Linked DNA regions of Homo sapiens. The protein of the gene in region 1 interacts with the protein of each later gene in a pairwise test. Each region holds a gene or a part of one and is shown on either strand. Other genes may lie near its edges.

Evidence for each region.
Region 2: the proteins of SSX3 (region 1) and ZBTB25 interact in a two-hybrid assay, tested with the Homo sapiens proteins (one large-scale study listed by BioGRID and IntAct).
Region 3: the proteins of SSX3 (region 1) and ZNF496 interact in a two-hybrid assay, tested with the Homo sapiens proteins (one large-scale study listed by BioGRID and IntAct).

The regions. Positions count from the first base shown.
Region 1 is NC_000023.11:48,346,675-48,350,327, forward strand, and holds part of SSX3 (protein SSX3), read right to left. Parts: intron 3,449-3,653; coding exon 3,313-3,448; intron 2,914-3,312; coding exon of another isoform or gene 2,867-2,913; exon of another isoform or gene 2,723-2,866; intron 1,775-2,722; exon of another isoform or gene 931-1,774; coding exon 830-930; 3' UTR 826-829; intron 362-825; 3' UTR 1-361. UniProt on the Homo sapiens protein: Could act as a modulator of transcription.
Region 2 is NC_000014.9:64,497,186-64,500,838, forward strand, and holds part of ZBTB25 (zinc finger and BTB domain-containing protein 25), read right to left. Parts: intron 3,269-3,653; exon of another isoform or gene 2,256-3,268; intron 808-2,255; exon of another isoform or gene 748-807; intron 1-747. UniProt on the Homo sapiens protein: May be involved in transcriptional regulation.
Region 3 is NC_000001.11:247,321,783-247,325,435, forward strand, and holds part of ZNF496 (zinc finger protein 496), read right to left. Parts: intron 1,449-3,653; coding exon 1,372-1,448; intron 1-1,371. UniProt on the Homo sapiens protein: DNA-binding transcription factor that can both act as an activator and a repressor.

The DNA.
Region 1 (3,653 bases):
CCTCAGTAGTCACATCTAGGGAGAGAGGAGGGTAATGCTGTTCCATGCAGAGGTAACTGACAATACTTGTTTTCTAAGGTAGGTGCATGGATACACAAACCAAAATATGCATTAAGTATGTCTTGCTCATCAGTGAAAATGTTAATATCTAACAGAATGACACACTTCAAGAAAATACAATGGAAACGCTAATATCGTACTCTTGGCACACTAAGAAAAATGACGCTCAACTTTTCACTGTTGTGAACACTTGCTTTCACTTGCTATGCACCTGATGACGAGGGGTCCACAGCCATGCCCATGTTCGTGAAAGGTCACCACGTTCTGCTTCTCATCATGGGCATGTGTCATATCCCCAAGGCTGAGGCAAGAAGAGAGAAGGAAAGTAAGTGGCAGTGAGTTCCCACCACGTGACAACTCAATCTCAACTCCTCCTGACCTGCAGACCCTGCACACTCCGATTCTGCCCTATCTCAGGACCTGCACACACCTTCCACGGTTCCTCGAAGTGAACCATCTGTTCATGCCACAGTGACTTCCTCGCCTGGGCTATCAATTCCTAGGCTAGAGGAAGGTGTGGCCCGCATATCAGGGCTGACCTGGGGTTTGGGACCCCACAGCATCCTGGGTAGGGAGCATCCCTGGATATATACAGGGCAGGGAGTAGAAAGAGCATGGGAAATCTCATCATTCAGCCTCAATGCTGTACACTAGAAAATTATAAGAAGGGAATGATTTGGGGAGCAAGTGACAGATGGGATGCCAGTATCATAACAGAATAGCACATCTGCAGGGATGCAGGGGATGAGTGGAAGGTTCTCTTACGGAGTTACTCATCATCTTCCTCAGGATCGCTGATCTCTTCATAAATCACCAGCTGCTTTCTCTCACGCAGTCTGTGGGTCCAGGCATGTTCCCCCCTTTTGGGTCCTATGATGGAGAATAGTTGGAAAGTGAGGGTTGGGTAGGTTGGAGAGTGTTAGGCTCTGTTTACTCAAAAAAAGGAGATGCCTGCTTCCTCCCAAGTGCCCATGGGCCTTCTTTATCCAGTTTTTCACATTCTCTGGCTTAGAGAGGCTGAGACCTTAGACCCACACCAATATAGGCCAAATGCCAATTAAAGTTTTAGCTTCTGGCTCCTTCCCTTCTCAGGCTTAGATTCCCAACCTCTTCACTTACGGGAACATTCCCCCATACCTAATTTCATACAGCACGTATTTGTTAAAGCCACACAGGCATACCTTGTTTTGTTGCACTTCATGTTCATACTGCTTCGCAGATGCTGCAATTTTTTTTTTTGGAAATTCTCACCAATTTTACACTTTTCCATTATTATTATATCTGTTATAGTGATCTGTGATCAGTGAGCTTTACTATTATTACTAAAATTGTTTTTGTTGTTTTTTAGTGTTTTAAAATAATTTTTGTTCTTTATTTTGTGGGTACACAGTAGGTGTATATTCTTATGGGGTACATGAGATGCTTTGATACAGGCATGCAATGCATGATAATCACATCATGGAAAATAGGGTATCCATCCTCAAGCATTTATCCTTGCCTTACAAACAATCCATTTATGCTCTTTTAGTTTTTTTAAGTACAATTAAGTTATTATTGACTATAATCACCCTGTTGTGTGTAATTGTTTTGGGGGTACCAGGAACTGCACCCATAGAATATGACAAACTTAATCGATTAATGTTTTGTGTCTTCTGACTGCTCCACCGATGAGCTGTTCCGCGTCTCTCTTCCTTTTCTTGGGCCTCCCTATTTCCTGAGACACAGCAATACTGAAATGAGGATTATTAACAACCTTACAATGGCCGTTAAGTGTTCAAATGAAAGGAAGAGTCGCATGCCTTTCACTCTAAATCACAAGCTAGAAATGGCTAAGATTAGTGAGGAAGCATGCTGAAAGCCAAGACAGGCTGAAAGCTAGGCCTCTTGCACCAAACAGCCAAGCTGTGAATGCAAAGAAAAGTTCTTGAAGGAAATAATAGTATATAATGCAAAGGAAAAGTTCTTGAAGGAAATAATAATACTAATACTCCAGTGAACACACGAATAAGAAAGCAAAACTGCCTTACTGCTCAAATAGAGAAAGTTTGAGTGGTCAGGATAGAAGATGAAACCAGCCACAACATTCCCTTAAGCCAAAGTCTAATTCAGAGCAAGACCAGAACTCTCTTCAAATCCATGAAAGCTGAGAGAGGTGAAGAAGCTGCAGGAGAAACCTGTGAAGCTAGCAGAGGTTGGTTCGTGAGGTTTAAGGAAAGAAGCCGTCTCTATAACATAAAAGTGCAAGGTGAAGCAGCAAACCCTGATGGAGAAGCTGCAGCAAGTTATCCGGAAGATCTAGCTAAGATCACTGATGAAGGTGGCTACACGAAACAACAGATTTTCAATGTAGATAAAATAGCCTTCTATTGGAAGGAGATGCCATCTAGGACTTTCATAGCTAGAGAGGATTGAGTTCAACTTTGAAAGGAGTTCTACTGTGGGTAAAATGCTATCCAATAGCATCACATACTACAGAGAAATCCTTCATGAAAGGGAGAGCTAATCGATGTGGCAAATTTCATTGTTGTGTTCTTTTAAGAAACTGCCACAGCCACTCCAATCTTCAGCAACCACCACCTTGACCAGCCAGCAGCCATCAACACCGAGGCAAGACCCTCCACCAGCAAAAAGAGTGTGACTCACTGAAGGCTCAGAAGATTGTTAGCATTTTTAACAATGAATTATTTTAAAATTAAGGTATATACATTTTTAGACATAATGCTATTGCACACTTAGTAGACTACACTGTAGTGTAAACATAACGTTTTATGCACTGTCAAACAAAAAACAATGTGTGTGACTCACTTTATTGCAGTGGTCTGGAACCGAACCTGCAGTATCTCTGAAGGACACCTGTATTGGGTAACAGGCATTGAGCTGAGTAAGATATGATCCCAGGTTATCACAGATAGAATCGCTTGAGCACCTTTCATGTCATCAGGCCTTCTAGATTAAATTTAATGTCTCCAAACAATTTATGAACTATGATTCTTTATTTCCATCTTATGGACTAGGAACCTGGAGCTGAGGAAATTTGGAAGACTTTCCTCAAGTCACGTGGTTTTTTTTTATATGGATGACAACTCCAGTCTGTCTCTGGAAGTCATGTCTAACATCTCATCTGGAGCTGGGCAAGCTCCTCAGCCCAGCCTGGACCCAGGGTTATCTGGGATCCATGCCACACACCCAGTCCACACACCTGAACGTCGCCAGGGAAGCCAGTGGGATTGTTCCTGAATTGCTTCCTCTTACCAGATATCATGTTAATCTTCTCAGAGGTAGTTGGTTTTCCCGGGGGGCACAGCTGTTTCCCATCGTTTTGTGGGCCAGATGCTTCTGGCACTTCCTTCGAAACATTTCCTTCCTCTGCTGGCTTCTTGGGCATGATCTTTATAATGTGAAGGTCATAGATAAATAGTATCAGTGACATTTCTATAGTGCTTTTGAGCTTACAAAGGGTCTTCACATGCATTAGCTTATTCAATGTTCTCAACAACACTGGGAGAGTTACACAGGCCTAAATTAGGAGAAACCTGGGAGGGGAGGTTAGAAGGGAAAGGAATGGCCTAAGTGAATATGGTTTCCAGGGATAG
Region 2 (3,653 bases), on another chromosome or scaffold:
CACATGAGGTGCATTCAAACTTGTTTTGCATAATAGGAGATCTTTGATGTTGTAATATACCAGATTTTACTTCAAATCAATAGCCCCATTCCATTGAGTTATTAGAACATTTTCTAATACAACCTACTCTGCAAATTATTAGCTAGACTTTTTGTATAGCCTTTGCTCATCATTCTTTGACTGTCTATTTTATTTTCTCTAGTATGTGAAATAGCTAAAGTTTCCCATGAATACAGAAAGAGCTTAGAAGTTACATTTGAGAATTTCTGGTGAGAATTTTAAGATGTGAGAGAAATTATGGAAAAATAAAGTATTTTATTATACTTATAAATACCAGAATCAAAATATGAGTGCTACATTTTTAAAAGTTTTATCTGTTATCAAAGTGATACATTATCATAATAGTTTTAGCATTGATATTTAAGAGATTACAAAAACCTTCTTTACCTTCTAGATTGTAGTAACTCTGGATTACTTCAAATTAAGATGGAACAACTTTATACTAGTATCTATGTTTGTTTAAAGCTGGCTTGATATTCAATACATATCTTTGATTCTTATGTATTTAGAAAAATCTACTGTACTAGACTGGACTCTCAGATCTATGGTAGCCAGCCGGATATCCTGGACTACACAGCTCTTCATTCTCTCAGGCTGTAAGAATCCTTAATAAAAAAGGAACAAAAAGAGCAAGACGACTGTTTCTGTAGGAAAACAGTCTTAGGTATTTTCTCTGTCAATGCTTACCACTGAGACTTTATGATGAATTTTCATTCAGACAAGGAGACAGGAAAGTTGGCAGAGGAATATGTACATCTTTTTTGAGCTACTTACTCATGGCTATAAATACAAAGGCAAAAGCAAAATATTTCAAGTGCCATATGATAAAAGACTTTATATAGCGACTAACTTTTTAATGGAACTTTCACATGACTGTAGAGGTGTGACATTTAATTATGTAGAGAATGAAACAATGTTTGTAGAAATCATTTTATCCTGAAACAGAGGTTCTTATTGCTGACTATACTGTAAAACCTTCTATGCAGAGCTGTATTGATGTCTGAGTCCCAACCCAGGCTTAGCCCAAACAGAATTGAATTGCTAGGGGTGAGGCACAGATTCTTTTTTTTTTTTTTTTGAGACAGAGTCTCGCTCTGTCGCCCAGGCTGCAGGCTGGAGTGCAATGGCGCGATCTCGGCTCAATGCAACCTCCGCCTCCTGGGTTCAAGTGCTTCTCCCGGACTCAGCCTCCTGAGTAGCTGGGATTACAGGTGCCCATCACGCCTGGCTAATTTTTATATTTTTAGTAGAGATGGGGTTTCGCCACGTTGGCCAGGCTGGTCTTGAACTCCTGACCTCAGGCGATCCGCCTGCCTTGGCCTCCCAAAGTGCTGGGATTACAGGCGTAGGCCACTGTTCCCGGCCAGATTGTTTATTTGTTTATTTATTTTTATTTTTATTTTTTTGAGACAGAGTCTCACTCTGTTGCCCAGGCTGGAGTGCAGTGGCACGATCTCGGCTCACTGCAAGCTCCGCCTCCCGGGTTCGCGCCATTCTCCTGCCTCAGCCTCCCGAGTAGCTGGGACTACAGGCGCCCACCACCACACCCAGCTAATTTTTTTGTATTTTTAGTCGAGACGGGGTTTCACTGTGTTAGCCAGGATGGTCTCGATTTCCTGACCTCATGATCCACCCGCCTCGGCCTCCCAAAGTGCTGTGATTACAGGCGTGAGCCACCGCGCCCAGCCCAGATTCTTTTTTTAAAAAGCTTCCCAGGTGATTCTAACGTGACTGCTCAGTTAAGAACCACTGCCTCAGAAGAACACGGGACCAAGGAAACCCAAGAAATTATTTCACACTCTACAATTACATTGATATTTAAGAGACAATAAAAACTTTCTTTACTTTCTAGATTGTATAACTCTGGATTAGTTCAAACTAAGTAAGATAGAACAACTTTATACTAGTCTCTATAAATAAACAATTCCGTAAGAGTGTTCAAAGTATGGAAATTATGTTGACTACATTAAATGAACAAATATAAACAACTGTAATTCTAATTGTAACCTTAAAATATTGGCCAGATTAAGAAACAAAAGTGCTCCATGGCCAGGCATGGTGGCTCGCTCCCAGCACTTTGGGAGGCCGAGGCAGGTGGATTACCTGAGGTCGGGAGTTCGAGACCAGCCTGACCAACATGAAGAAACCCCGTCTCTACTAAAAATACAAAATTAGCCAGGTGTGGTGGCACATACCTATAATCCCGGCTACTCGGGAGGCTGAGGCGGGAGAATCGCTTGAACCCAGGAGGCAGAGGTTGTGGTGAGCTGAGATTGTGTCATTGCACTCCAGTCTGGGCAACAAGAGTGAAACTCCATCTCAAAAAAAAAAAGAAAAAGAAAAAAAAGAATCAAAAGTGCTCCTAAACTGGCAGGATGGGCATGGGTGGGGGGGTGGAGGAACACACTATTTTCAGACTTCTTTTCAAATAGTATTTAGGAAAAAGAAATATTTACTCTCTTACTCCATTACACCTAGATTGGATTTCATAACACCTAAAAATGATACAGAAATTCTAAATCTGAAAATACTGTTTGAGGTAAAATCTGCTGTAATTCCAGACATCTGCTTATTAAGATCTACTGAGAATGTTAGCAAAGAGGGTATGGAGGGGGTAGATGAAACAGGAAGAGTAGTTATGCTCTAGAAACCTTTAATGGAACTGGGAAACGTTAGTTTGGGGCCTCCTGCCTGTTGGCAGACATAGCCAACCTCCAAGCACCTCTAATTCCCATCTAACCAACATTACATTGTAGGATGCCTGATAAAGCCAAGCACACAAGAATACTAACAACAGTAAGCACAAATTGTTAATAGACCTTTAAAAAAAATCAGAACCCGGAGAAAGAAAGGAAAAGATTCCTCTCAGTCCATTAAAGACAAACCAAATTTCTAAAAGAAAAAATAAGGTACTCAAAGGACAGGAGAAAGATGGAAAATTATAATGCTAGTACAGACCTAGAATACAGTACAGGCAAGAGTAACTAAAACTTCTGGATACAAGTAAACCAATACTTCTTTCGCAATGGAAGTATACTCCCATGAACACACTACTCAAGTGGGCTAATAAAAACCTTTGCTTAAAGTGCTTGGAGATTTCAGAAAAAATAAAACATCCATGCATGACTGATTTGTAACCAGAGAAGAAATGAATTAGAAAAATATAAAAAATAACTGAACACTCTAAGCACTTTTTCTCCCAATAAAGCAAAAAAAAAAAAAAAAAAAAAAGAGAGAGAGAGAGAAAGAAAATTCCTGCTAGCAAAGGGAAAGCAGAACGGTAAATAAATGCCTATAATCCCAGCACTTTAGGAGGCCGAGGAGGGTGGATCACCTGAGGTCAGAGTTCAAGACCAGCCTGGCCAATATGGTGAAACCGTCTCTACTAAAAATACAAAAATTAGTTGGGCGTGGTGGCAGACGTCTGTAATCCCAGCTACTTGGGAGGCTGAGGCAGAAGAATTGCCAATAAGGGGGAAAAACTCAAATGTCCATGGATAGTCAAATGGATAAAGAAAACATGGACCAGGCACAGTGGCTCACACCTATAATCCCAGCACTTTGGGAGGCCAAGGTGGGCGGATCACTTGAGG
Region 3 (3,653 bases), on another chromosome or scaffold:
ATTTTAATAAGAAATACTGGTTTTACCTCCTTTGTGTTTGGAAATGGTCACAGTACACAGCAGATGCTGACATGTATGTGTTGAGCATCAGGGTAAACAGGCGTGTGCCACATTTCTGGTGGGGCAAAAGCAAGTTATGGAGATGCCCCCTAACTGGGTAACCTGGCTAACTCCTTCCCATCCCTAGCCCTCCCTTCTCCAAGTTTAAAGTCATGTTGGCTGGGCACAGTGGCTCATGCCTGTAATCCCAGCACTTTGGGAGGCTGAGACAGGAGGATCACTTGAGGTCAGGAGTTTGAGACCAGCCTGGGCAACATGGCGAGACCCTGTCTCTACAAGGAAATACAAAACTTAGCTGGGTGTAGTGGCATGCACCTGTAGTCCCAGCTGCTCAGGAGACCGAGGTGGGAGGATGGCTTGAGCTCAGGAGTTTGAGGCTGCAGTGAACTACGACTGTGCCACTGCATTGAAGCCTGGGTGACAAGGCAAGACCCTGTCTCTAAAAATAAAAATAAAATAAAGTCATGTCAAATGAACTGTGCAGAAAGCAAACTGCTCAGCTTCCGACATTCTGCTGAGACATGGTAATAAGAGTGTCTACTGTTTTTCACAGTTTTCTGTTGGGTAAGGAGCAACTAAACAAAAGCAGGAGCCACACATCCTGTTCCCATGGGAGGGGATGATGCTGTCATAACTAAATCTTGTGCCAGCCAGTGGAAAGTGTTAGGAGGGAAAGTGAAGGAGATATGGCCAGAAAACATGGCCAAAGACAGCAACTGGGCTAGAGAGAGGCGAGTAAGATCACCTGCTGGACCAGCCCCCAGCCCTGACTCTGACTCCTCAGAGCACCCGAGTAAGCAAGTCTTACACAAAAACACGAACGAGAACATTCGAGGAAATTCTGGAATGACTCACCACGTAGATCTGTGACAGGACTGAAATTATCTGTGCTTTCTTCCCTCCACTTCCTAACATTTCTAAAATATAACCATTGCTGCGATGATTATTAAATTGAAAAATTCTCTGTAAAATAAAAGAGCAGAGAGATCTCCTTTTTCACAAGAGGGGAACTTAGACATGCTGAGAGGCCCATCAATGGGGACTCATGGGCCTTTGTTTCCTGCTATCGTCTGCACAAAGCTTCCTGAAGGTGGCCTGATGACAGTAGACCCAGTGGGCGGCTGGGACCACAGGGAAGGAGGAGAAATGGGGCGTCTCTTAAGCTCACGCTCTGCCTATTTTAGCTTTTCTGGGCTGGGACTGAACATCCTGTGTGGCAGTCAGAAAGCTGGCTGGGGTCCTAAGAAAGCTGCCCTGTAGCCTACAGAGGCAAACAGGGGATTTTCAAGGACTCCTGTAGAAACCACTCACCGGGGGTAGCTGGAGGGTGGTCACCTGCTGTGTGTCCCGCACATTCTCTTCCTGAAGAAGGAAAGCATCTTGCAGAACTGAAAGAGATCAGAAAATGGTGTCCTAAAGTGGGCCAGGGCCAGGCCTGGTGCTGATACCTTCTGAGCTTCCTGCGGCTCTTCATTTCCATTTTGGTAGCAAAGAAAATCACAAGAGAGGCACCAACAGGGAACTGTTTCATGGTGCTTTTCATAAAACCCCAGTCTCTGTTCTTAACTGTAAAATGAGGATTACAAAATGACGCACATGAAAAGTACTCTGTAAACCACAAAGATTGCTGCGACTTTGTTTCCAGATATAACAAGGGGGGCTGTAACAGAGTGTGCCTGGGTTCATGATAGCACGGTCAATTAAATGAACTCTTTCACCTCGGGTAGGTCCCCGGACCTCAGCATTGTTATCCAAACTATGGGAAAATAAAGGTTAAAACTCTATGGAGTTCAGCCGTGTGTGGTGGTACATGCCTGTAATCTCAGCTATTCTTATTTTGGGGACTGAGGTGGGAGAATCACTTGAGCCCAGGAGTTCCAGACCAGCAGGGACAACACAGAGTATTTGTTTCTTAAAAAGAAAAAGAAAAAAAAAAAGAAGAAGAAAAAGAAAAAGCCGTAGAGTTGAGGAATCTATAAGGACTCTTAGGGTCTGGATGTGGTGGCTCATGCCTGTAATCCTAGCTCTTTGGGAAGCCAAAGTGGGAGGATTGCTTAAGCTCAGGAGTTCAAGACCAGTCTGGGCAACATAGGGAGACCGCATCTCTATTAAAAATAAAAAAACTGGGAAGCTGAAACAGAAGGATTGCTTGAGCCTGAGAGATGGAGGCTGCAGTGAGCCACAGCTGCACCACTGCACTCCAGCCTGGGTGACAGAACATGGCTCTGTCTCAAATGAAAAAAAAAAAAAAAAAAAGTAAGGGCTGTTGGCAATCAGAATTACTGTGGAACTCCATAAAAAAAGAAGGAAAATCCTGTCATTTTTGACGACATGAATGAACCTGAAAGACATGCTACGAGCAATAAGCCAGACACAAAAAGAAATACTGCATGTTCTCACTTAAATGTGGACTCTAAAAAAGTTGAACTCATAGAAGCAGAGATCAGAATGCTGGTTACCAGAGGCTAGGGAATGAGGGGACTGGGGAGACATTGGTCAAAGTGTACAAAATTTCAGTGACATGAGAGGAGTAAACTCAGGAGTCCTATTGCACAACATGGTGACTATAGGCAGTAACAACGTACTGTGTACTTGAAAATTGCTAAGAGGGTAGATCTGAAGTATTTTCACCACACACAGAAAAAGGATAGGTATATGAGGTAATGCATTATATTAATTAGCTTGACTTTTTTTTTTTTTAAGAGACTGGTCTCACTAGGTTGCCTAGGCTGGAACAGAACTCCTGAGCTCAAGGGATCCTCCCACCTCAGCCTCCTGAGTAGCTGGGACTACAGGTGTGCCACCATGCCCAGCTAAGTAGCTTGGTTTAATCATTTCACAATGTGTATAGATATCAAAACATTACACTGTACACTGTAAATACATACAATTTTTTTTTGTCAATTTGAAGACAGAAATTAAACAAAAAAGAAAAACTGTTACCACTGTAGGTACTCCTGAAAGAGCATTTGACACAGTGTCCTAAAGACCCTCATACAAAATGTAAAGTGTGGCTTTGGGACCATCTCACCAGCCTTATTTTGGGCTACCAGGGACTCTGCCACTCTTCTCTCCTGGAATTGGAAACTACCCTTTGTTCAGGCTTCTGCCATGAGCCACATCCCCTGCCAACAGTGCAGCCATGTAAAAATGAGCTCTGTTTCAAAAGGTACTCCTTTCTCAGATTAAGACTTGGAGAGCTGTGCTATAGTCTACTGGTTAACCCCAGGTCACATGTTAAGTCATTATCAAAGCAAACCCCAGAGGCCAGTGTCCCTGGCCTTTCAGACCTGGAATACAAAGCCTGCAGGAAACAGCAGCTGCAGGAGTGGCTATGTGGAACAAAGGACGGGGCCAGGAGCCCACACAGATGGCAGTGCCATTCTAGGGGTCTCAGTGGAAGGCAGCCTCTTCACTGTGTCTGAAGGGGAAGCTCAGGCTGGATGGGCGTAGATTTGAGGAGGTGGTATTTTTCTGTGTGTATGTTCCATTTTAAGTTTCTATCTTCATCTTTATTTAACTTACTTTTACCTCCCAGTTTTATTAAGCTATAATTGACAAAAATTGTATGTATTTTGTATACGAAAACTGTA